4 linked regions of the Homo sapiens genome follow. The protein of the gene in region 4 interacts with the protein of the main gene of each other region in a pairwise test. Each region holds a gene or a part of one and is shown on either strand. Other genes may lie near its edges.

Region 1 (4,468 bases), on a different chromosome or scaffold from region 4:
GAGGTAGAGGTTGCAGTGAGCCAAGATCGCACCACCGCACTCCAGCCTGGTGACAGAGCGAGACTCCATCTCAAACAAAAACAAAAAACAAAAACAAAAAAATCAGCCAGGCATGGTGGCACACACCTGTAATCCTGGCTACTCTGGAGGCTGAGGCAGGAAAATCCCTTCAACCCGGGAGGCAGAGGTTGCAGTGAGCTGAGATCACACCACTATATCCAGCCTGGGCAACAAAGCAAGAGTCCATCTCAGGGGGTGGGGCGGTAGGGGCGGGAAAAAGCCATGTGCCTTTGTGGATTATAACAAAATTATGGGAGCAGTGGACTCAGCTGATCAGATGTTCATTTCTTATCCAACTGAGTGCAAAAGCACAAGGTTTGGTATAAATTAATCCACCACCTTCTAAACATTACAGTGCATGAACTAAATTAGAAAATTATCTATTTATAAACGGAAAGTAACCACACAAGCACAATGGAGTATACAGTACGAATTAGTCATATAAATACAAGTGGTAGCGCAACCATTCTGAGTCAATCTATTTTATTGACCAAAAGATTCCTGTGGAAACAGGAGGTGAGTGCCCTAAGCCCTCACTCCTTAGCACTCTGCGTGCTGATGTAGTCCTGGAGAAGCGCCTGCGCCTCCATCCGCCGGCTCATCTTGGTGGCCTTGCCCTGAAAACGGCCTTTCTTCCCTGCTCCTTTGCCTTCCAGGACCTCAGCCACCCTGGGGAACAGAGGTATAGTCAGGGAGACTTTGAGGGAAAAGTCACAAAAAAAAACAAGGGCAGCTCTGAGTCTTTTTCCAGGGACTGGGAGAGGGATAAGAAGAGTAGATGACTTCTAGGAATCTTTCTTGAAAACACTTGCACATAGGCTGGGCATGGTGGCTCACACCTGTAATCCCAGCACTTTGGGAGGCCAAAGTGGGTGGATCACCTGAGGTCAGGACTTCAAGACCAGCCTGACCAATAGGATGAAACCCCGTCTCTACTAAAAATAAAAAAATCAGCCGGGCATGGTGGTATGCGCCATAATCCCAGCTACTCAGGAAGCTGAGACAGGAGAATTGCTTGAACCCGGGAGGCAGAGGTTGCAGTGAGCCGAGATGGTGCCATTGCACTCCAGCCTGGGCAACAAGAGTGAAACTTTGTCTCAAAAAAACACTTGCACATATGCACAAAGATATATGTACCATCATCACATAAGAGTGAATAACTGGAAACAACATCAGTGTCTATGAATTGGGCTAGATAAATTATGTTAATCTCCAGAGAGCAGGGTGAGCACCTGTAATCCCAGCACTTTGGGAGGGCAAGGCAGGTGGATCACTTGAGGTCAGGAGTTCGAGACCAGCCTGGCCAACATGGTGAAACCCTATCTGTACTAAAAATACAAAAAATTGGACGGGTATGGTTATGTGCACCTGTAATCCCAGCTACTTGAGTGGCTGAGGCAGGAAAATTGCTTAAACCTGGGAGGTGGTGGCTGCAGTGAGCTGAGTAGCCTGGGCTCTCCAGGCTGGGCAACAGACTAAGACTCCATCTCAAAAAACAAAAACAAACACATTTCATAAAAACAAAAACAAAAACATACATGTGAGATGTGGAGCCAAAAGACCTTCAACTGTCAAACTGGAAATGACAGTAGTAATAATTATCTCTGCTCAGCCCACCTCACATGCCCATGATGTGAATTAAATGAGATCGCAGATGTGATGGTCCTTTGACTCAGTAAAGGAATGTATTTGTAGGATACAGGCTCTACTACATGTGCAAGAGAGTCCACAAAGAATTACCTGGGCCCCAGGGTCTCCACAGACGCAGGTGGCCCTGCCAGTAAGAAGAGTCCACCACCTTTCTCATCGCCCACAGTTAAGAACAGGAGGGTCTCCTAGGAGGTAAGACAAGGAGATAAGCTCTGATACTGAAGGATGTAGAGTCAACCCCCCAAATCCTGCACTCTCTTCAATCTTAAGAATAGATTATTTCCCCCTAAACCACCAAGTGACGCTCCTGATGAATGATGATACAGCCCCTCCACACTGGCCCACGAGGGCCAAGAAACTTTTTGAGAGCAACTATGGGAACTTAGGTGAAACATTAAGAAGGCAGCAGAAGACTGCTGATCCTGGCTAAGCAGAAAATGCCTTTCATGGTTTCACTCTTGCAAACTTTTCCCCACCACACATCCTTTCCCTGCCACTGCCTAAACCACCAGGTTTCCCTCTGCCTGGCCGCCTCTGCCCCTTGTCTGTCTGATGACCTCTAAGCAGTCTTCAAGGGCCCCTCCCCTGAAACCTCCCTATCCTTCAGGTAATGTGCTCCTCCACCTCTAGCATTCATCACTCTATCATTCTGAATTATAAATGTCGACATACATATTTGTCTCCCAGACTAGAATATGAGCTTCTTGAGAATCAGTTCTGTCTATACAGAAGAATTATGAAAAGAGAGATACACAACGCTTTACCCACAGTAGGCATTCCAAAGAAGGGTTCTGGAGTAAATACAAAAGAGATAGTGGGGCATGGTGGCTCATGCTTGCAGTCCCAACTACTCAGGAGGCTGACGTGGGAGGACTGCTTGAGCCCAGGAGTTCAAGACTGCAGTGAGCCATAATCACGCCACTGTACTCCAGCCTGGGTGACAGAGCAAGACTCTGTCTCTGAAAAAAACAAACAAACAAACAAACAAACAAAAGACCTGGAAATCTCTAGGCTAGAGACCATCAGGAGTGGGAAGAGTAAGTAAAGCCAGAGGAAGAGGAAAATGGACGGGGATGGCTTTCAAAGGGGCTTGCCCACTCCTGTATTTACTTTTTTTTTTTTTTTTTGGAGACAGTCTGTGTTGCCCAGGCTGGAGTGCAGTGGCGCAATCTCGGCTCACTGCAACCTCAGCCTCCAGGGTTCAAGCAATTCTCCTGCCTCAACCTCCCAAGTAGCTGGGTCTACAGGCACCTGCCACCACACCCAGCAAATTTTTGTCTTCTGTTTTGAGACAGAATCTCACTCTGTAGCCCATGCTAGAGTGCTGTGGCACAATCTCAGCTCACTGCAACCTCTGCCTACCAGGCTCAAGAGATTCTCATGCCTCAGCCTCCCGAGTAGCTGGGATTACAGGCGCATGCCACCACGCCTAGCTAATTTTTTGTATTTTAGTAGAGATAGGGTTTTACCATGTTGCCCAGGGTGGTCTCGAACTCCTGAGCTGAGGCAATCCACCCGCCTCAGCCTCCCAAAGTGCTGGAATTACAGGCGTGAGCCACCATGCCTGGCCTGATTTTTCTATTTTTAGTAGAGATGGGGTTTCACCATGTTGGCTAGGCTGGTCTCCTGATCTTAAGTGATCCACCCACCTTGGCCTCCCAAAGTGCTGGGATTACATGCGTGAGCCACCGCGACCAGCCCACTGATATATTTCTAATATTGGATCCCCAGCACACATAAACCTGAATGGCTTTGAGGAGCTAGAGCTCTGATGAAAGGAGCTCAGAAGCTAATAAACATCACAGCCCCAGAGAGAGCAATAACATAGATCTAGCTCAACACCTAAAACAGAGCTTGGCATATAGCTAGTACTAAGAAAACAGTATTGAATGAATGGCTATTTCCTCCTCCTCATGTGTTCATGTGGAGGGACTTTGGCTAAACTAGCGCCCCTCACTTATGTCTCCCTAGGTCTCTATCCAGGCCGGGGTAGAGAATCTCATGCTCCTCTTACCTCTGACCCAATCTCATTGGCAATGATATTCATGAACTCTGAATCACCCTCCTTCCTACAACAAAGGACACAGACATGAGACCCAGGTTGGAGTGGTGGCTGTGAAACTGCAGGAAGCCTGGCCCCTCCTTCTGAGGCTGGCCTTGCTGCCTATGTACACATAAAGTCCCATATCCCTTAGCCAAGAGAGAGTACTGGCTGAAAGCCAGCAAGCTGCCCTTCTCAGCCTCTGCAGTTTGTAATCAACCTCCAGGTTTGTTTCCATCTCCCTTAAATAGGATTCACCAGGATAAGCAGAAATCTGTTAGAGAGTAAAGGAGGTAGGGGACAGTCCTAAAGAAAGATACAGGCTGGACACAGTGGCTCACACCTGTAATCTCAGCACTTTGGGAGGCCAAGGTGGGCAGATTGCTTGAGGTCAGGAGTTCAAAACCAGCCTGGCCAACATGGGGAAACCCCAGCTCTACCAAAAATACAAAAGTTAGCCTGGTGTGGTGGCACATGCCTGTGATCCCCCAGCTACTCGGGAGGCTGAAGCACGAGAACCGCTTGGACCCAGGAGGCACAGGTTACACTGAGCCGAGATCATGCCACTGCACTCCAGACACACTAAGACTCCATCTCAAAAAAAACACAAAAAACAAAAGATACAGAGTTACAGTAAATATGTTAATATCAAACCCAGGAGGCCTGGTATGTAACATATTTCTTTTTTTTTTTATATTTTTGAGATGGGGTCTCACT
Region 2 (6,560 bases), on a different chromosome or scaffold from region 4:
GAACAAAGAAGAAAAAGAAGTTGCTTACTAAAGGTTTAAGGAAGCAATTAACATTTCAAAAAAGGAAGGGGCATAAGCTATGAGCTAAGACTTGCCTGGGCCTGTCCAGACATGCCTGAGTAAGCCAAAGCAACTAACTGGGCTCAAGTGTAAGAACTAGTAGTTGAGAGGAGGCTTTAGAGTAAGGAGCTATTATTTATAGTGTCTATTATTTTATTTTTAAACCAAGATGAATTTTGAAGAAAAACTTTACTACTTTCTACATCTTCTCTCCTAGGACCTTGTCTTTTTTTGAGCAAAAGTTTTTTTTTCTTCTCAGACGATGACATTCTGTTTTCTTCATCTACTTCTGCTGTCTCTCCTTTATTTTGCTACCCTCTGTTGCATGAGGGACGTAAAATAGTTTATAATTGCCTGCATTCCTTAAAGAAAATGGAGAAGATGCCACACTCCCTTTTGGGGAGAAACCTCTATTTTTCCCAAGAGTGTAAACACACAAGTTCATCTCAGATCTTAAGCTGCTTGCTTTTGTATTGTGTTACTTGATTTTTTGACTAAAACTGTTATTAGTTTATTCTTGGATTTTTAAGGAAGAAAGTAGCTTGAACACTTAGAAATGTCTTTGTTAAAAAAAAAAAAAAGGACACTGTAAAAGCATCACTTGGTGTAGCCTCATAGTAATTCTCCCTTTTTGGAGAACTAGGATTCAGTGTGGGCTCTGCCCAGAGCTCAGAGATCCAGTTAAAAGACAGGTAGTCCCTATCTAAATACAACTGGTCTCCTTATACAATCCTATAATATATTTCTACAATTTTGTGTTTGATTTGGCATCCATCTTCAATCTCCTTCTAACATCACCAGACTCTTTCTCTCTGTGCTTTGAGAAGCAAATTTCACTATCTGATTTTTTTTACCTAAGGGTTCCTTTAATATGCACATTTAGGGCTATCTAGCTGACAATTGCCTAGGGCAATAAAATAGGTTATGAAGAAATTGTAAATCTAAAATACAAGGAAAAAATAAAGGCCTTAGGAATTTATAAGATCTACTTCTATCTACATGTCTAATACATCTATGTATTTATGTGTCATGGATATGACATTTCACTACTAAAAATGTAGAAAAGAGCTCTAATTAATTGGCTTAACAAAGGCACTTAAATCTAATGCTTTTCAGAAAAATAGACTTTAAGCCAAATGCTTTTTCAAGTTCATGTGACTTAAGCAAATCTTCAATAAACAAGCTGGTTTTAAAAATTTTAGTGAAATTGAATTAGAAATGGCTTTGGAATTCTCAACATACATTATTTATCTCTGCTAGATGTCAACATTTGGCATAAGGGTTCTAAAGCTATGAATGCAGCTCAAATAAGAATTATCTTTGTTTATGTAAAATTTAGTAAGTAAGGAATTTAATATTGTTTGGTTAATGAAAATAGCTAAATCCTGAGTTATTGCCAAAAAAACAAAAACAAACAAACAAATAAACAAAAAAAGACCCTTTATCTAACCTTAATGTTCTTACTCAGGACAACCTGAAATTCACAGGTTATAAAAATGGTTAACAAGGACATAACTTTAAATGGTAACTATTACAGTTTTCATAAGTAATCTGGGTAAACTATTAGAAAATTAATTAATTACACAAATGTAACAGAATAAGTTCTTGTAGAATATCTTGTCATATAATTTAAAATCCAAAGTTATATTAAGCTAAATAGTAGATATTTATTACACGTCTGGGTCATTTCCAATTTTTTTAATTATAGGAAAACATTTTTCTGTAAAAAAGAAATGTGATCTTAAAGGAAAATACTTTTTGTCTAATTCGAAGCTTATCTAAAAGTTATTTATGAAATTAGGTAATCAGTGAATAAAAACAATGTGAAGGAAGTTATGAACAGGCATTTTTGGCACAAAAAGTTAAAAGGAAAATAATTTTATCTGAGCAAGAATCTTGTATGGTAAATTTTTGTTCTAAAATAAAATAACTGGTTATTTAAGAAAAAGGAAGCCTAGGCATGGTGGCTCATGCTTGTTAATTCCAGCATTTTGGGAGGCCGAGGTGGATGGATCACCTGAGGTCAGGAGGTCGAGACCAGCCTGGCCAACGTGGCAAATCCCTGTCTCTACTAAAAATACAAAAATTAGCCAGGTGTGGTGGCACGTGCCTGTAGTCCCAGCTACTCCGGAGGCTGAGGCAGGAGAATTGCTTGTACATGGGAGGCAGAGGTTGCAGGGAGCCGAGATGGCGCCACTGCACGACTCTAGCCTGGGCGACGGAGGAAGACTGTATCTCAAAGGAATAAAGAAAGAGGAAGGGATAAAACAGAAAGTCCAAGCTGTCATAAATGATTTGTATAAAGTTGTCTATAATTAAAGGGAAATTATTTATAATAGTCTTTCCAGATTTAGCTTATGATATTAAAAAAAACACTAAAAAAATTCATCAGAACAATAAAATTTTCTTAAGGAGTTGATTTACTCTTAATAAATTAAAAGATTTTAATTCTTTAAACCCAAAGTTTAACTTTTATCACATCTCACCATTTTCGGTTTACTCTCCTCTTTTAAAAGGTGAAAATAATAACTCTCTCTTTCAACTCATTTTCAGCTCATATAAGTTTCTTCTTTTTTTCTCTTGTGTTCTGTTTGTTGTGGCCTCATGCTAAAAATGTTTTTTTTTCTATTTCTTTTTTCTTTTCTTGAGGTGGGGTCTCACTCTGTCAGCCAGGCTGAGAGTGCAGTGGCACAATCTTGGCTCACTGCAACCTCCCCCTTCCAGGTTCAAGCAATTCTCCTGCCACCACGCCCGGCTAATTTTTGTATTTGTAGTAGAGACAGGGTTTCACCGTGTTGGCCAGGCTGGTCTCGAACTTCTGACCTCAAGTGATCCACCTGCTTCAGCCTCCCAAAGTGCTAGGATTACAGGCATGAGCCACTATGACAGGCCAAAAATTTTTTCTTCAAGGTCTAAAAAAGTGTTTTCTTCCATCTGTGTAACTTTCTGTATGTGCTTTTAAAGTCCTTGTGCCATTGAGTTATAGGGCTTTGACTTCTGGGTCTAAAAAGGACACCAAGTTCTGCTATATCTTAAACACTGACAGCAATTACAGCCTCATTTTCAGGCCCAGTAGAAGATGCTAATCAAAGTAAACTGCGTTCATGAGATGCAGGGCCAGAAATTAAAACTATTCAACTCCTCAAGGCCCAAGGACTATCGTGGAAGAGGTGGGCATGTGAGATTGTAAGGGCTGATATTAAGAGAAAAGTAGCTCAGTTTCTCTAGGAATTAACCATTAATATCAAAGGCACACTAAAGCAAAACCAGTATCTAGGTTGCTGTGTCAGTTTAACAAGGCTTTCTTGGAGCATTAACTCACTCCTTCATGCAAAATGATGAAGGTTACAAGGTTTATAGAAATTATATTTTATACTCAAGATGATTAAACTTTTATTATACAATTTCAAAAAAACAAACTTAATTTGCCGCATCCTGTTTTTAATTAGGGCTTATTGTTTGGGATATTAAGCCTCCTCTCTCAAAGAATAAAGATTTTCACCTTTTTTTTTTTTTGAAACATTTGAGTTACTGCTTTGGTTAAATGAATGACTTATTTTACAATGACCCATGACCCTATTTCGTGATATCAAGCATTTTAAACTTTTTATCTTTGACGAACTTTCCAAAGTCAAATTCTAACTTCATTCCTCATTAATTTTTTGATATGAGTCCTCTGAAGTCCAAAAGAGACATATTGGTCTTATTTGGTATAAAAATCATACAAGAAGCATCATCAAATATAAAATGGTGTTTGACTTTCTTTGGGCTGTATTTATAGAAATGTCATTGATATGTGCTCCAAAATTATGGGAAACTCTTATACTTCTGAAATAACTTGTGTATGTTATTAATTATAACTTTTATGTTAAATTCTTGTATGCTACAGAAGTAACCAAAATTTACTTGTCAATGGTGGTTTTAATAATGGCCGTCCTGGCTGGGTGTGGTGGCTCACGCCTGTAATCCCAGCACTTTGGAGGCCAAGGCAGGTGGATCACGAGGTCAGGAGTTCAAGACCAGCTTGGCCAAGATGGTGAGACCCCGTCTCTCCTAAAAATACAAAAATTAGCCGGGCGTGGTGGCACAGGCCTGTAATCCCAGCTACTCAGGAGGCTGAGCCAGAGAATCACTTAAACCCAGGAGGCAGAGGTTGCAGTGAGCTGAGATCATGCCACTGCACTCCAGCCTGGGCAACAACAGTGAAACTCCATTTGAAAAAAAGAAAAAAATATACACCCCTGATTTGAAACAAGACTAGGATACACGGTAAAGAATGTTTATTCACTAAAGTTTTGACAGACTGAAGGCCATTATTTCAGATTGGAGATAGGAAACTTAAAAGAACTACATGGACATTGGGTAAAAGAACATGGGTTGAAATTTGCCTGGCAGTAGCCCAAAAGTAAATGGTCTTCGAGGTGCATGTGAAGGAACTGTAGGAGGGAAATGGGATAATTCACATCTCCGCCAATAAATAAATGTAGCCACACTAGCGTGGGGGATTTGAGGTGAGACATCGAAAATACTAAGTCATGGTGAGGGCTGGAAGACAAAAGAATGAATCACTTAATAGGAATGGCTGTGGGGAAGGGCTTGAAGGAATCATCCTCTGACTTCCATGTGAACCGTGAACATTAAACATGGAGAAATGAGGAGCGGCGGCAGATCGGTTTGGGATGCATCTTCAGGGGATGCTGAAACAACAACAGCATTTGGTTTGCTCTACACCCCTGTCACCCCTCGCCCGCAAGCCCAGGGAGTGGTCAGCAGTGGGGCTTTGTGACGTCGAAGCCACCCTAGGGCTGCCATTGGCTGGGACACTGCCTGTATGATCAAACAAAGCTCAAGGGTGTGGCTTTGCCTTGTCACCAGGAGGGTATGCATAGGGAGGGCAAGAGCTCTGGGCCACTGCGAAGATTCAAAAGCTCCAAAAACCTACTGTAGACATCGAAGAACCAATATATACAATGGGCCAACAATCCAGTGTCCGCAGGCTGAAGAGGAGCGTCCCCTGTGAATCCAACGAGGCCAACGAGGCCAATGAGGCCAACAAGACGGTAAGATTGTTAGGTTCTGAAGTGAAGGCGAGGGTGAAAGAAAGACACACAGAGCGGGGGCGGCTCAAACAACAACACAGGAATATTGCAGACCATTGTGGAAGTGGGGGGCCCGCTTAATGCCAGAGCCCACCGCCGCTTACAACCTGGGGTGCTTGTAGGTAGGGGTGGGAGGGGCCTGGGCAGTATGGCTTGCTGCCCGGCAGGATATTGATAAGATGTTCTTATGATCAGGTGGTTTGGCCCTTTTTCTGGTGGAATATCATTGTGGTGTTCCTTAGAACGCTGCCAAGCAAGATATGATAGGGATGTTTCTTCAGTTGGGCCTTTGTCCGCCTTGCGGACAGGTGGTTAGGCAGGATGTTTCTCACGGCCTGAACCCCCATGGGATGTTTCACTTTGACCAAGGTCTGCAAAATAGCAAAGAACTGACAAAATGGTGCAGTTTGGACTCACAGGTGACCCTACCCACGCTCCTCTTCTTCTTCCCCATAGATCCCTACTCTGTGCTTCAACCTTCTTCTTCTCTGGATCAAACCCCTTCCTCAACCTGCATTCCTTCTTCTCATGAAGCCCCCTTGCTATCCAGTCTCTATCCTGTTCACCCAAAATAATGTCCTCCTGGCCTCTCCCTGTTTTCTTAACAGATGCCGGAGACCCCAACTGGGGACTCAGACCCGCAACCTGCTCCTAAAAAAATGAAAACATCTGAGTCCTCGACCATACTAGTGGTTCGCTACAGGAGGAACGTGAAAAGAACATCTCCAGAGGAACTGCTGAATGACCACGCCCGAGAGAACAGAATCAACCCCGACCAAATGGAGGAGGAGGAATTCATAGAAATAACGACTGAAAGACCTAAAAAGTAGCAAGAAGCTACATCCCTCAAACTTCGGCAATGAAAATAAAGTTTGAGAAGCTGATGGCTGTGTATATCTCTGCCTGTTTTCTGATGGTGGGGGGTGAAGGGAAGGGAAGAGGTAGGCATTTGAGAAGGGAGGGATATGAGGTCCTGTAGGGTTGGTGGACAGACCCACAGGTTGACAGTAAGCCAGACATTGTAAATAAGGCCTGGGGGAGGACTGATTCCTAAAGAAAATTTTCTTCTTAAAATTTTATCTCACAGGAAGTGGAGATGTGTATATGTTCACGCAACTGTACCCGGCAGCACATAGTTCTGCTGAATGGACATATCAAAGGTATTCCCATCCCCTTTCCATTTGATATTTTCCTAGGTTAGAAATATATGCTTTATAAAGCGTAAATGTTCTGTAAAACACAAAGCACAATACAAAAGAAGATAGTAGATGTAGGAGTAAGTAAACGGCAGGAAAGCATTGCATGTAATGAAATGATTGAAAAGCCAAATTTTAAAACAAAATGTACACTGCATCTTAAATATTTATGTTACTGTTTTAATAACCTCAGCAGTGTTTAATC
Region 3 (6,287 bases), on a different chromosome or scaffold from region 4:
GCCTGGGATGTTGAAGCTTCAGTGAGCCGTGATTGCACCACTGCACTCCAGCTTGGGCGACAGAGTGAACCCTGTCTTAAAGTCTTTCTCTCTCTACACACACACGCACACACACACACACACACACACACACACGAACAGCCAAATTACATATAAAAGGACTAACAACTTGATTGACAGAAGACATCCTGCAACAACAAAAAATGGCAAAACAACGGGCTAATATCTTTAAAGTACTGTAGTTAAATATCATTTTAAAATTAAGAATGAAGGTGTAATTAAAACATTTACAGTCAATTCTAAGAAAGTTTATCACACAAAAACATGCTCAGACTTACAGAAGCAAGATAGTTTATCACACGTAAGACACAGTGGAAAGAAATATTAAAGGATATTCTTCACAAAAAGAAAACTGAAGCTACAGTGAAGGAGTGGAATGTAAGAATAAAAATGTAGGAAATAATTGGTAAGGCATAGTGGTAGATCTGAATAGTTATTGATGTTTTTAAATAAAATAAAACCAGCTTGTTGACATCAGCTTTACCAGTAATCTTTTATCTCCTATATAAAAATATGAGGCAACTACAGTAATAAACTAACATTTTAAAAGTTAGAAGTTTGGTTTACATGAGAAAAAACTCAGGGTAGATTTTAAAAGGTATAAAATAATGTGGAATAGCAGGAATGCAAACACTTTCCATTGGGTGAAATCACCAGATTAACAAATTAAAAAAAAATACATAACACAATGCATGCTGAAAACATCTGATAAAATTCAACACAAATTTTCATTTAGAATTAGAAGACTAGAAGAAAACTTCAGCAGGATAAGGGGTTCCTAGGAAGAAGCAACATACAGTCTTGTATAGTAAGCATACTATTTGGCAGTTTCCTTGGAGAGCAGTTGGAAAAACCCCAAGAAAAGCCATGGCTAAGTCTTCCAAAATTCATGGGAAAAAAATGCAAGGTAACTAACAACGTAAGAGATCTGGTGATTTCTTGGTTTGGGGAGAAACGGGAGTGGCAGTATGATGCTGGAGAAAGACTGGAATTTGAGAGAAACAACTGATGCAAAACGAGGGAGAATGAAGGGATCTGAATATGACCTTGTAAAGAAGCCCAGAAATCTGGACACATTTTCTGGTATCCTTGCGCAGATTTTCTATTTAAAGATGAGGTCTAGAATATACCTTTTCTTGCTGACGTCTTCATCTCCTACTATCGGTAGTGTGCAGCGAAAAAGCAATTGTCCGAACACGCGGTGCCCAATTTCCAGGTTGTTGGATACTCAATGTGAGAGATTCCCGCAATCCTAGAGGGCCTCCAGCAGAGCGGCCAGGATTGTTGTGTGTACGTGGGGGTGGGGGTCTATGCCTGGAACAGGCGTCTCCGGGCCTTGCACGGAGGGCGTTCCGGGAGCGGCGAGCGCGCGTGGGGACCTGGACTCCCCACGCACGGAGAGGGAGGTAGAGGTTGGAGAGGTGAGCTGGGGACAGGCTCCAGAAGGCGGAATTCCAGGTCAAAGATGGGGCGTGGAGAACGTCTCTCTGAACTGGGGTTGGGGGCCAGAGCACAGGGTTCTGGGATGGGGCCCTCCCGGTAGGGGATGAACATACTTCTAGAGGAGGGGTAGAGCCCAGCGGCTGAGCCGGTTGGGGAGTCCATCCGGAGCTCCGGGAACTCGGGGTCCGCGTCCTCCTCGTAGGCCTCTTCCTGGGCGGCGATCTCTGGGACAGATGCGCAGAATTCCAGCTCGACGACGACGTCCTCCCTGACAGCGCCCAGGAAAACGTCCACTTCCAGCCCGGCAGACGAGTCGTGCTGCGCTCCTGAGCGTTCGTCGACGGAGCTCAGGAGGACCTCTGGGATCAGGATGAGGGTGTGTCCACCGAGAGACACTCGCAGGATCGACGTTGGTGCGGGCTCCAGCACCAGGTCGACGTCGTCCAGGGGCACACGCAGGGCACAGCCCGCGGCCAGGACCACTATGGAGGTGAGCGCGTCCACGGCCGGGTCCCCCGCCGGGTCTTCCAGGCTGGGTGCCGCGCGGGGTTCGGGGCCCGCGGGCTCCTCCAATCGGAGGCGCTTGGCAGGGCCGGGTCCTCCTGGCTGCTGTCCCCACCAGGGAGCAGGGAAGGCGCTGGGGCTGCGGGGCCGGCTGACCATCGCCTCGACGGCGCTGTGGACGGCGCTCCTGGGCCTAGCAGCGGACGTGGGGAGCGCGGCGGTGAAGTCCTCTTTGAAGTAACAGATGTCGGTGGTAGGGGAGGCTGGTTGGGACGAGCGGGGCGCAGGACCGCGCGACGCGGGGCGAGTCCTCGGAGCTCCCGGGGCGCCTCCTGGGGGACCGTAGTCTGGGCTGCTGGTGGTGCCTCGCCGGCCACCGGGCTCAGCTTAGCTCGTTGGACCCTTGGGCCTTCCTGATGCAGACCCGGATGCGCACTGCAAAGCCAATTATGTTGTAAATGACGGCAGCGGAACCGAAGTCGCAAAATGTCACGCAATGCTCCGCCCCCTGGAGGACCCGCTCTAGAGGCGGAGGTATCCGTGCTGTCCAGTATCCGTGGCTATAATTGGTCGGACACGCTGGGGAAATACTCTTACAGGCCTCTAGGGGGCAGAATGATCAGTATAACTTATTCAGAAAAAATGATAACAACTGTAATAGAATTTCAAAGATGGCTCGCCTTTAGAACTCATGTTTTCTTGTGATTTCAGGGATTCTAGAGAAAAGACCACTCAGATCTCTCCGACCCATCCAAATGCTACATACAATTCCTTTAATGCTACTAAATTATTTCATTTTAGGAGTATTCAGAAAATACAGATTTCTACTTGGGAAAATTGATTTTAAAATTCTGAGTGAAGCTGGGAGTGGTGGCTCACGCTTGTAATCCCAGCACTTTGGGAGGCTGAGGAAGGCTGATCGCTTGAGCCCAGGAGTTCAAGACCACTCTGGGCAACATGGTGAGACTCGGTCCCTATGAAAAATTTAAAAATTCAAAAATTAGCCTGGCGTGGTGGTGCGTACCTGTGGTCCCAGCTATTTGGGAGGCTGAGATGGCAAGATCGATGGAGCCCGGGAGGTCAAAGCTGGAGTGAACCGTGGTGGTGCCACTGCACTCCAGCCTGGGCAACAGAGTGAGACCCTGTCTAAAAAAAAAAAAAAAAAAAGTGAAACATTTGTGAATAGTTTCATCCTGAAAGTTAAAAAGTTATAAAATTATTAATCATATTAAAATTTAAAACAATATTAATAAAATTATTTTTTTTTCTTTTTTTTTTTTTTTTTGAGACAGAGTCTCGCTCTGTCGCCCAGGCTGGAGTGCAGTGGCGCGATCTCGGCTCACTGCAAGCTCCACCTCCTGAGTTCACGCCATTCTCCTGCCTCAGCCTCCCGAATAGCTGGGACTACAGGCGCCCACCACCGCGCCCGGCTAATTTTTTTTGTATTTTTAGTAGAGACGGGGTTTCACCGTGTTAGCCAGGATGGTCTCGATCTCCTGACCGCGTGATCTGCCCGCCTCAGCCTCCCAAAGTGCTGGGATTACAGGCGTGAGCTACCGCGCCTGGCCGTATAAAATTAATTTTTAAATTGAACACTTATATTTCCATGATTCTTGAATTTTTTTTTTTTTTTTGACAGAGTCTGACTCTGTCTCCCAGGCTGGAGTGCAGTGGTGCAATCTCAGCTCACTGCAGTCTTGGCCTCCCAGGCTCTGGTGATCCTCCCACCTCAGCCTCCGGAGTAGCTGGGACTACAGGCCTGTGCCACCATACTGGCTATTTTTTTTTGTATTTTTAGTAGAGGCAGGGTTTTGCCATGTTGCCTAGGCTGGTCTTGAACTCTTGGGCTCAAGCGATCCTCCCTCATCGGCCTCTCAAAGTGCTGGGATTACAGGTGTGAGTCACTGCATCTGACCTGAGCTTTTTTTTTTGAGACGGAGTCTCACTCTGTCGCCTAGGTTTGAGTTAAGTGGCACGATCTTGGCTCACTGCAACTTCCGCCTCCCGGGTTCAAGCCATTATCCTGCCTCAGCCTCCCGAGTAGCTGGCAGTACAGGCACTTGCCACCACGCCTGGCTAATTTTTGTATTTTTAGTAGAGACGAGGTTTCATCATGTTGGCCAGTGTAGTGTCAAACTCCTGACCTCAAGTGATCCGCCTGCCTCGGCCTCCTAAAGTGCTGGGTGCTGCGGTTACACCGTGCCCAGCCCTGAGTTTTTTTTTTTTTTTTTTTTGAGACAAAGTCTTGCTCTTGTCCCCCAGGCTGGAGTGCAATGGCGCGATCTCAGCTCACTGCAACCTCCGCCTCCCGGGTTCAAGTGATTTTCCTGCCTCAGCCTCCCAAGTAGCTGGGATTACAGGGACTTACCACCATGCCCGTCTAATTTTTGTATTTTTAATAGAGAGGGGGTTTCACCTTGTTGGCCAGGCTGGTTTCGAACTCCTGACCTCAGGTGATCCACCCGCCTCGGCCTCCCAAAGTGCTGGGATTACAGGCGTGAGCCACCATGCCCTGCCAGTCCTGAGTATTTTAAAAACGATCTTCTTCATTCTTCACAACACCTGAGGCTCAGTGGTAAAGCAAATTTTTCTTAAAAAAATAATTAAAAAAATTTGTGTGGGTATATAGTAGAGGTATATATTTATAGGGTACATAAGATGTTTTGATACAGAAATGCAGTGTGAATAAGCACATTATAGAAAATGGGGTATCCATCTCCTCAAGCATTTATCCTTTGAGTTACAAACACACCAGTTACACTCTTTAAGTTATCAAATAGTAGGTCTTATTCATTCTTTGTGTTTTTTTTTTGTATGCATTAACCATCCTCACTTCCCTGGTAAAGCAAATTTTTCAAAATCAAATACCCAGGTTGTGTTGGATGTGGGAATCAAATGCACAGATATAGCTGGCTTTAAATCAAAGACTCTTTCCTGACACTTTTATGAGGAAAGTAGGAGTAGATCACTAATTGGTACTGTGTATGCCTTTCAAATTAACAGGTAATACCCCTTTCCCCATTCTTTTTTCAAAATGGCTTTCCCTGCTTACATTCACGTGAGCAGAGTATGTTTCCATTTCACTAAATCTTTGCAAGCATTTCTTATTGCCACATTCTTAAATCTTTTTCAAGCTATTGTAGTAAAATGCTATTTCATTTTGCATTTCTGATTACCAATAAAGTGAACCATTTTTCCTTTTTTTAAATTATACTTTAAGTTCTAGGGTACATGTGCACAACGTGCAGGTTTGTTACATATGTATACATGCGCCATGTTGGTGTGCTTCACCTATTAACTCGTCATTTACATTAGGTATATCTCCTAATGCTATCCCTCCCCTCTCCTCCCAGCCCTTGACGAGCTCCGGTGTGTGATGTTCCCCTTTCTGTGTCCAAGTGTTCTCATTGTTCAATTCCCACCTATGAGTGAGAACATGTGGTGTTTGGTTTTTCTTTCTTGCGATAGTTTGCTGAAAATGATGGTTTCCAGCTTCATCCATGTCCCTACAAAGGACATGAACTCATCCTTTTTTATGGCTAAAGTGAATCATTTTTTCATATGCTTATTTACTATTCTTGTATCTTCTTATTTGAAATGCTCCTATCTTCTATTTTTTTACTTTTAAAAAACTCAGGTTCACAATATTGTATACCAGTTATTCATCAGATATATGTGTAGCAAATATCTCTGTCATTCTCCCACAGTTTTTGAAGACATTAGCACCTGATTCACTATTATTCCCAGCCGATCTACTTCTGATGTAATTTGTGGTAATTTTAATGTTTTCATAGATTTTTCCCCCTGAAGTCCTAGCCTCTTAGTTCACAATTTTGTTCTGCCTCCTACCTCACTGACTCATACCCTTGACTTTGTTGTTACCCCAAGTTGTAATCCCTTTATAATCACAATTTCAACATTTTATTCTCACAGCACCACCTTCTAACTTTCTAATTCAGTTTTAAAAAATATCCAAATCTATCCATTTTTCATTCTCTCTGGAAAAATCCTTTTATCCTACCATCTTTTAATGGAAACTGATATCATCAGGTTCTCACTTCCCTCTTTACTGGGAACTTAAATTCCACGGACAGCCTTGATAATCATTGTCATATTTATATCTTCAACTTTCTTTCCTGTCTACTGCTTTGCTGGTTAAATCTATCTGCCTACTCAGTGCCCTTACTTGTATGGCTGAATGTGTCTGGAGAAAAACACTCAATCTCTTTGAATAGTCTCACTTTATAATCATGATCACCAACCTCCAGTGGGTTCCTAAT
Region 4 (7,039 bases):
GATGGTAGAGGGGAGATATGGGTGTTGATAAGTAAGAATCCCCATTGCTCATAGAGGATAAACTTTATAAATAAGTCAGCAGGCCAGGGACGTTGGCTCATGCCTATAATCCCAGTGCTTTGGGAGGCTGAGATGAGCAGATCACTTGGGGTCAAGAGTTCGAGATCAGCCTGTCTAAAATGATGAAACTTCATCTCTACTAAAAATACAAAAATTAGCTGGGCATGGTGGCATGTGCCTGTAGTCCCAGCTGCTTGGGAGGCCGAGGCAGGAGAATTGCTTGAATCCAGGAAGAGGAGGTTGCAGTGAACTGAGATCACACCACTGTACTCCAGCCTGGGTGACAGAGTGAGATTCCGTCACACACACAAAAAAATAAATAAAACAAATAGTATATTATGAATAGTAAGAGATGACTATAACTATCAGATGTTAACACTTTGGAGGTGGAAAAACAGATTTTTATCCTCTTTTTGGTTTTTCATTATGAGTCTAGATTTGTTTTTAATGATGTATATGTATTGTTTTGATAATTTAAAAAATGTGGCCATGCAGACACACATTGTAAAGGTGAAATGGTTTCACAATCTTAGTTATGTCAGTTATGTTTTACATTTAATGAATTTAGCTAAAGAACATGCATGGATTTCTCAGTAGAGAGCTATAGTTAAGGTTGTAAGTTCTGGAGTTAAATGACTTAGATTTAACTACCTTGGGGGGTAGATTAACCTCTAAACCCCAGTCCCTTTTTTTTTGCTTTGTTTTGTTGTGTTGCTTTTTGTTTGTTTGTTTTTCTTATTTATTTAAGACCCTAGTCTCTTGAACTATAAAGTGGGGCTGATAACATGTATCTCGTAGCATTGTTCTGAGGATTGAATGAGATGGTCTGTTCAAAGTGTATCAAAAGTAACCAGCATGTAGTAAGTTCTCAGGAAATGTTATCTTAAAATAACAATAAAATGATTTACCAGAATGAACACACTGAAGCAGTAAGTTCCATAATTAATTTTACATAAGTTATCAGTAACTAAAATTAATTATATCTATTCTTTAAAACATCATGGAAATCATTGATTACAAAATTATTGGATATTCATTATTACATTGAAAAATGAAGCTGGCCAGGTGTGGTGGCTCATGCCTTTAATCTCAGCACTTTGGAAGGCTGAGGTAGGCAGGTTGCTAGAGCTCAGGAGTTCAAGACCAGCCTTGGCAACATGACGAGACCCTGTCTCTACAAAAAATACAAAAATTCACTGGATGTGGCACACCTGTAGTCCCAGCTACTTGGGTGGCTGAGGTGGGAGGATCATTTGAGCCCAGGAGGTTGAGGCTGCAGTGAGCCATGATAGTGCCTGGGGAACAGAGTAAGACCCTGTCTCAGAAAAAAATAGAGAGAGAGAGAGAAATAAAGAAAGAGAAAGGAAAGAGAAAGGAAGGGAGGCAGGGAGGGAAAGAAAATAAAACAAAACAAAACAAAGGAAAGAAAAATGAGAGGCCAGGTGCAGTAGCTTGCTCCTGTGATCCCAGCTACTCAGGAATCTGAGGTGGGAGGATCTCTTGAGCCTAGGAGTTTGAGGCTGAAGTGCACTGTGATTGTGCCACTGCACTCCAGCTTGGATGAGAGAGTGAGACCGTCTCTGATGAAAAGAAAAATGAAGGCTATAGTTTCATAAGAGTATAAACTTGGGGCCAGGCGTGGTGGCTCACGCCTGTAATCCCAGCACTTTGGGAGGCCGAGGAGGGCGGGTCACGAGGTCAGGAGATCAAGACCATCCTGGCTAACACAGTGAAACCCCGTGTCTACTAAAAATACAAAAAATTAGCCGGGCGTGGTGGTGGGCGCCTGTAGTCCCAGCTGCTCAGGAGGCTGAGGCAGGAGAATGGCGTGAACCCAGGAGGCAGAGCTTGCTGTGAGCCGACATCACGCCACTTACACTTTTAGCTTGGATGACAAAGTGAGACTCAAAAAAAAAAAAAGAAGAATATTAACTTGGAGGTAGCACAATCTGGGATTATATCCTGACTCCACTATTTTCTCAGATATATTATGATAAAAATATTATACTTATATAAACTTGGAGAAGCTTTTTTCTTTTTTATTTCAGCTTTATTAAGGTACAGTTTACATAAAAGTGATGACTTTTATGTTTAAAATGTGATGGGTTTTGACAAAAGTATACAGTGTTACAACCATCACCGTGATCGTAATAGAACATTTCCATCATTGGAAGAGCCTCTTAGCCTCTTTGAAACCCAGTTTCTTTGCATGTTACATAGAGATAAAAGCCAGCAACCTCGGGTGGCTGTATACACAGGACCTAATATATACAGTCCCTGGCACATAGAAGACATTGCTAGTGTTCTTATCATACTCATCATTTTTTTTTCTGTTATTTTCTAGCTTCTGAAAGTTCTGCTGAAGACAGTGAGCAGGAAGATGAGAGAGGTGCTCAAGACATGGATAATAATGGCAAAGAGGAATCTAAGATTGATCATTTGACCAACAACAGAAATGATCTTATTTCAAAGGAGGAACAGAACAGTTCATCTTTGCTAGAAGAAAACAAAGTTCATGCAGATTTGGTAATATCCAAACCAGTGTCAAAATCTCCAGAAAGATTAAGGAAAGATATAGAAGTATTATCCGAAGATACTGATTATGAAGAAGATGAAGTCACAAAAAAGAGAAAGGATGTCAAGAAGGACACAACAGATAAATCTTCAAAACCACAAATAAAACGTGGTAAAAGAAGGTATTGCAATACAGAAGAGTGTCTAAAAACTGGATCACCTGGCAAAAAGGAAGAGAAGGCCAAGAACAAAGAATCACTTTGCATGGAAAACAGTAGCAACAGCTCTTCAGATGAAGATGAAGAAGAAACAAAAGCAAAGATGACACCAACTAAGAAATACAATGGTTTGGAGGAAAAAAGAAAATCTCTACGGACAACTGGTTTCTATTCAGGATTTTCAGAAGTGGCAGAAAAAAGGATTAAACTTTTAAATAACTCTGATGAAAGACTTCAAAACAGCAGGGCCAAAGATCGAAAAGATGTCTGGTCAAGTATTCAGGGACAGTGGCCTAAAAAAACGCTGAAAGAGCTTTTTTCAGACTCTGATACTGAGGCTGCAGCTTCCCCACCGCATCCTGCCCCAGAGGAGGGGGTGGCAGAGGAGTCACTGCAGACTGTGGCTGAAGAGGAGAGTTGTTCACCCAGTGTAGAACTAGAAAAACCACCTCCAGTCAATGTCGATAGTAAACCCATTGAAGAAAAAACAGTAGAGGTCAATGACAGAAAAGCAGAATTTCCAAGTAGTGGCAGTAATTCAGTGCTAAATACCCCTCCTACTACACCTGAATCGCCTTCATCAGTCACTGTAACAGAAGGCAGCCGGCAGCAGTCTTCTGTAACAGTATCAGAACCACTGGCTCCAAACCAAGAAGAGGTTCGAAGTATCAAGAGTGAAACTGATAGCACAATTGAGGTGGATAGTGTTGCTGGGGAGCTCCAAGACCTCCAGTCTGAAGGGAATAGCTCGCCAGCAGGTTTTGATGCCAGTGTGAGCTCAAGCAGTAGTAATCAGCCAGAACCAGAACATCCTGAAAAAGGTGAGAAGGAAAATGTGTATGTTGACTTATTTTAGGGTTTCCCCTCTTAAAGTTTCAATGATTTCACAGTATCTCTTGTTATAACCTGAGGCGATTAAGTGTCATATTTGTGTGAACATGGTAAAAATGGAAATTTTAAAGGTAATTTGAAAATGAATAGTGGAATGCATTTAAAAGCTTGAGAAGGCTTTAATGTGCTTTGCTTGAGCCATCCATGGCATTTTATTGTGGACCAGAACACATGCTAGAAATTGCACCCAGGCCCAAATCCAAACCTGTTTGAGAATTCATTATATGCAGTGGTTGACTATATGGCATGAGCAGCTTAAATCTATTTCTGTAACATTGTTTTTGCAATTGTAATGTGCAGTTTCTCACGAACATTTTGATTTATTGACAGACCCCTCCACCCTTAACCAAATACTGTATGTAGGGGTTTGGAGCAACCAACTGTCCAGGCACTGCTTTCCTCAGACAACCGTGTCAAACTGATTTTCAAGCCTGACTAACTTGTGTGAGTTTGTAAAGGAATTTGATGCTTTCTTAGATGCATAGCTTCCAAATTGAAGGACCAATGTGTACGTTAATAACCTACAGTAATACTTTTTTGATTTTCCGTGAAATTGTTAAAAGTGGAAATTCAAATCGGTACCTTCCCAAAGTATTAGTGCCTTTCGATGGTGCCATAGCCATACTTCTGTCATCATTTTTCTTATAAACCACTTCATTCAGGTATCTTTAAATCAGTATACTCTAGGCTGACACCTGGCTTTGGAACACACTTTTCCATCGTAAAGACAGAGCACTGGAGTATGTTTTTTATATACCGTAAAAGATTTTAGAATGCTAGCTTTAGGTTTTCAGCAAAGCTTAAAGAGATATGGTCTAGATCAAATTAGTTAATTCTATGTTTTCTCAGGAATCTTGACTTAAAACATTTCTGTTTTAAAATAAATTAAAAAAATACTTGCAATTAAATTGAAATGTTCTTTGCTTTTTTTCACATTTACAAGTATAACTACTATGATTTTATCTGTGCCATACTATCTCATGCAACTGAACTATCCAGGCATGACTAATCTTCAAAATGAAAGAATCCTTTATTTCAGAATATTAGGCTTTCAACAGTAAGATTTTACTGGCCAGGTGTGGTCACTCACACCTGTAATCCCAGCAATTTGGGAGGTCTGGGAGGTCAAGGCGGTGGATCGCTTGAGTCCAGGAGTTCAAGACCAGCCTGGACAACATGGCAAAACCCCATCTCTACCAAAAATACAAACGTCAGCCAGCTGTGGTGGCGCATGCCTGTAGTCCCAGCTACCTTGGGGGCTGATGAGGGAGAATCACTTGATCCCGGAAAGGCTGCAGTGAGCCAAGATCACGCCACTGCACTCCAGCCTGGGTGATAAAACAAGACCCTGTCTCAAAAAAAAAAAAAAAAAAAAAAGAAAAAACAAGAAAAGAAAGAAAAAAACAGGTTTTATTGTTATAGGTTTTCTTGGGGGTTTTTTTTTTGAGATGGAGTCTCGCTCTGTTGCCCAGGCTGGAGTGCAGTGGTGTGATCTGGGCTCACTGCAACCTCCGTCTCCTGGGTTCAAGTGATTCCCCTGCCTCAGCCTGCTGAGTAGCTGGGACTACAGGCGTGTGCCACCATGCCCAGCTAATTTTTTGTATTTTTAGTAGAGATGGCATTTCGCCATGTTAGCCAGGATGGTCTCTATCTCTTGACCTCATGATCTGCCTGCCTTGGCCTCCCAAAGTGCTAGGATTACAGGCATGAGCCACCGTGCCTAGCCTATTGTTGTAGTTTTTAAGAGGTTGTATCCTTATTATGTTCGTAATATCTTACAAAAGATTAAAATTAACAACAAAAAAAAAGAGGATATCTTCTCTGCTAATAGACTAAGTCAACACTGCCCTTTTGAATCTTAATCTTGACTAGGTTAATAATTGTGGAATTTGAAAGCTACTCCTAAATTTAGGGTAATTTATATCTCTTTAGAAATAATTGGTGTTTTTCTTTTTGTTGGGTTTTTTTTTTTTTTTTTTTTTTTTTTTTGAGACATAGAGTTTTGCTCTTGTTGCCCAGGCTGGAGTGCAGTGGTGCAATCTTGGTTCACTGCAACCTCCACCTCTCAGGTTCAAGAGATTCTCCTGCCTCAGCCTGCTGAGTATCTGGGATTAACGCCCGGCTAATTTTTGTATTTTGTTTAGTAGAGATGGGGTTTCGCCATGTTGGCCAGGCTGGTCTACGAACTCCTGACCTCAGGTAATCCACCTACCTTGGCCTCCCAAAGTGCTGGAATTACAGGCATGAGCCACCGCGCCCAGCCAGAAATAGGTTCTTAAGCACCTGTTTCACATGGCCACATTTTAATAAATTTACTTACTATGAATATTGGAGACTCCCCACTATATCACAAGTTAAAATTTAAGTTTTACTATTTAGATGTAGTTTTTTCCTCTTAATTTACTCTACATTGAAGGTTTTTATTTCTTAGTATCTGAACACTTTAGAATTAAACTCTCTTGGAGAGAAACCTGACAATTATGGTTCTGTGCTTCAGTATGGTCAATATCTACGTCTCCTTTATGTTTCACTTAAATTGTGATATTAAAATGACATTAGGTGGGTCACATACTTGGTGTAAAAAATAAAAAAGAAATATTAAAAATTTAAAAAGGTATTAGGAAAAGTTGTAAGTAAGATTATATGACCCATTAAAAAAAAGCTAGGAAGTTGCAGACAGTTAATTACTTGTCCTGTTTTTGATCAAGGAAGTTAGGTTTTATACACAGAAGGTTGATTTGGTGTCTGACATTGGAACTGAATGGAGATAGTACTTTATTAGTCTCTGGAGAAAAAATCTTACTTTATATAGTCTGAGAGATAACATATATGAATTAGACAGAAATATAGCAGATGTTAAGGACCAAATGAGTAGTATAGAAAAATGCTACAGTTCAGAGTAGTGATTGATCAGTGAAGCCTGGAACATCTTAGTGAAGATGTAGGACTTGGGCTAGTCCTTGAAGAAAAGGGAGACATTTATTTGTAATGTTTTGCAATAATTTCCCACCAAGAAGATGAGACGTTTTTTAGAACTACTATGTTGGATTTGTAAATGGTATGCATGTTAACCAAACAGTGCCCTGGGAGCTTAGTTATTCTTGACATAAATTGGTAAAAAAGAACCAAGTATGAATTACTGCTAAAATTTACCTCATTTATATCATTTAAAAATTATATTAATATGATTATAAGACATAATGTCATTAACATTTTAACCTGTGATTAAGTCTTAATATTTTGGTTTTATTGAATCTTAACAAATTTCAGTTTTTATTTTCAGCATATACTTTTAATTACTAGGCTTATAAACTCCCAGTACTATATTAAGGACTATTTTCAGTTTATATCTGATT

The links.
Region 1: the proteins of ARID4B (region 4) and AARSD1 interact in binary tests that used the Homo sapiens proteins (3 or more experiments, as listed by UniProt).
Region 2: the proteins of ARID4B (region 4) and SPANXB1 interact in binary tests that used the Homo sapiens proteins (3 or more experiments, as listed by UniProt).
Region 3: the proteins of ARID4B (region 4) and PRR23B interact in binary tests that used the Homo sapiens proteins (3 or more experiments, as listed by UniProt).

The regions. Positions count from the first base shown.
Region 1 is NC_000017.11:42,950,000-42,954,467, forward strand, and holds the end of AARSD1 (alanyl-tRNA editing protein Aarsd1), read right to left. Parts: intron 3,780-4,468; coding exon 3,725-3,779; intron 1,896-3,724; coding exon 1,801-1,895; intron 730-1,800; coding exon 594-729; 3' UTR 527-593; downstream 1-526. Other genes in the region: PTGES3L-AARSD1 protein, read right to left, coding at 594-729, 1,801-1,895, 3,725-3,779. UniProt on the Homo sapiens protein: Functions in trans to edit the amino acid moiety from incorrectly charged tRNA(Ala).
Region 2 is NC_000023.11:140,997,664-141,004,223, forward strand, and holds SPANXB1 (sperm protein associated with the nucleus on the X chromosome B1), read left to right. Parts: upstream 1-4,930; 5' UTR 4,931-5,030; coding exon 5,031-5,120; intron 5,121-5,767; coding exon 5,768-5,989; 3' UTR 5,990-6,043; downstream 6,044-6,560.
Region 3 is NC_000003.12:139,018,496-139,024,782, forward strand, and holds PRR23B (proline-rich protein 23B), read right to left. Parts: upstream 2,432-6,287; 5' UTR 2,167-2,431; coding exon 1,369-2,166; 3' UTR 536-1,368; downstream 1-535.
Region 4 is NC_000001.11:235,178,159-235,185,197, reverse strand, and holds part of ARID4B (AT-rich interactive domain-containing protein 4B), read left to right. Parts: intron 1-2,404; coding exon 2,405-3,613; intron 3,614-4,013; coding exon of another isoform or gene 4,014-4,105; exon of another isoform or gene 4,106-4,127; intron 4,128-7,039. UniProt on the Homo sapiens protein: Acts as a transcriptional repressor. May function in the assembly and/or enzymatic activity of the Sin3A corepressor complex or in mediating interactions between the complex and other regulatory complexes.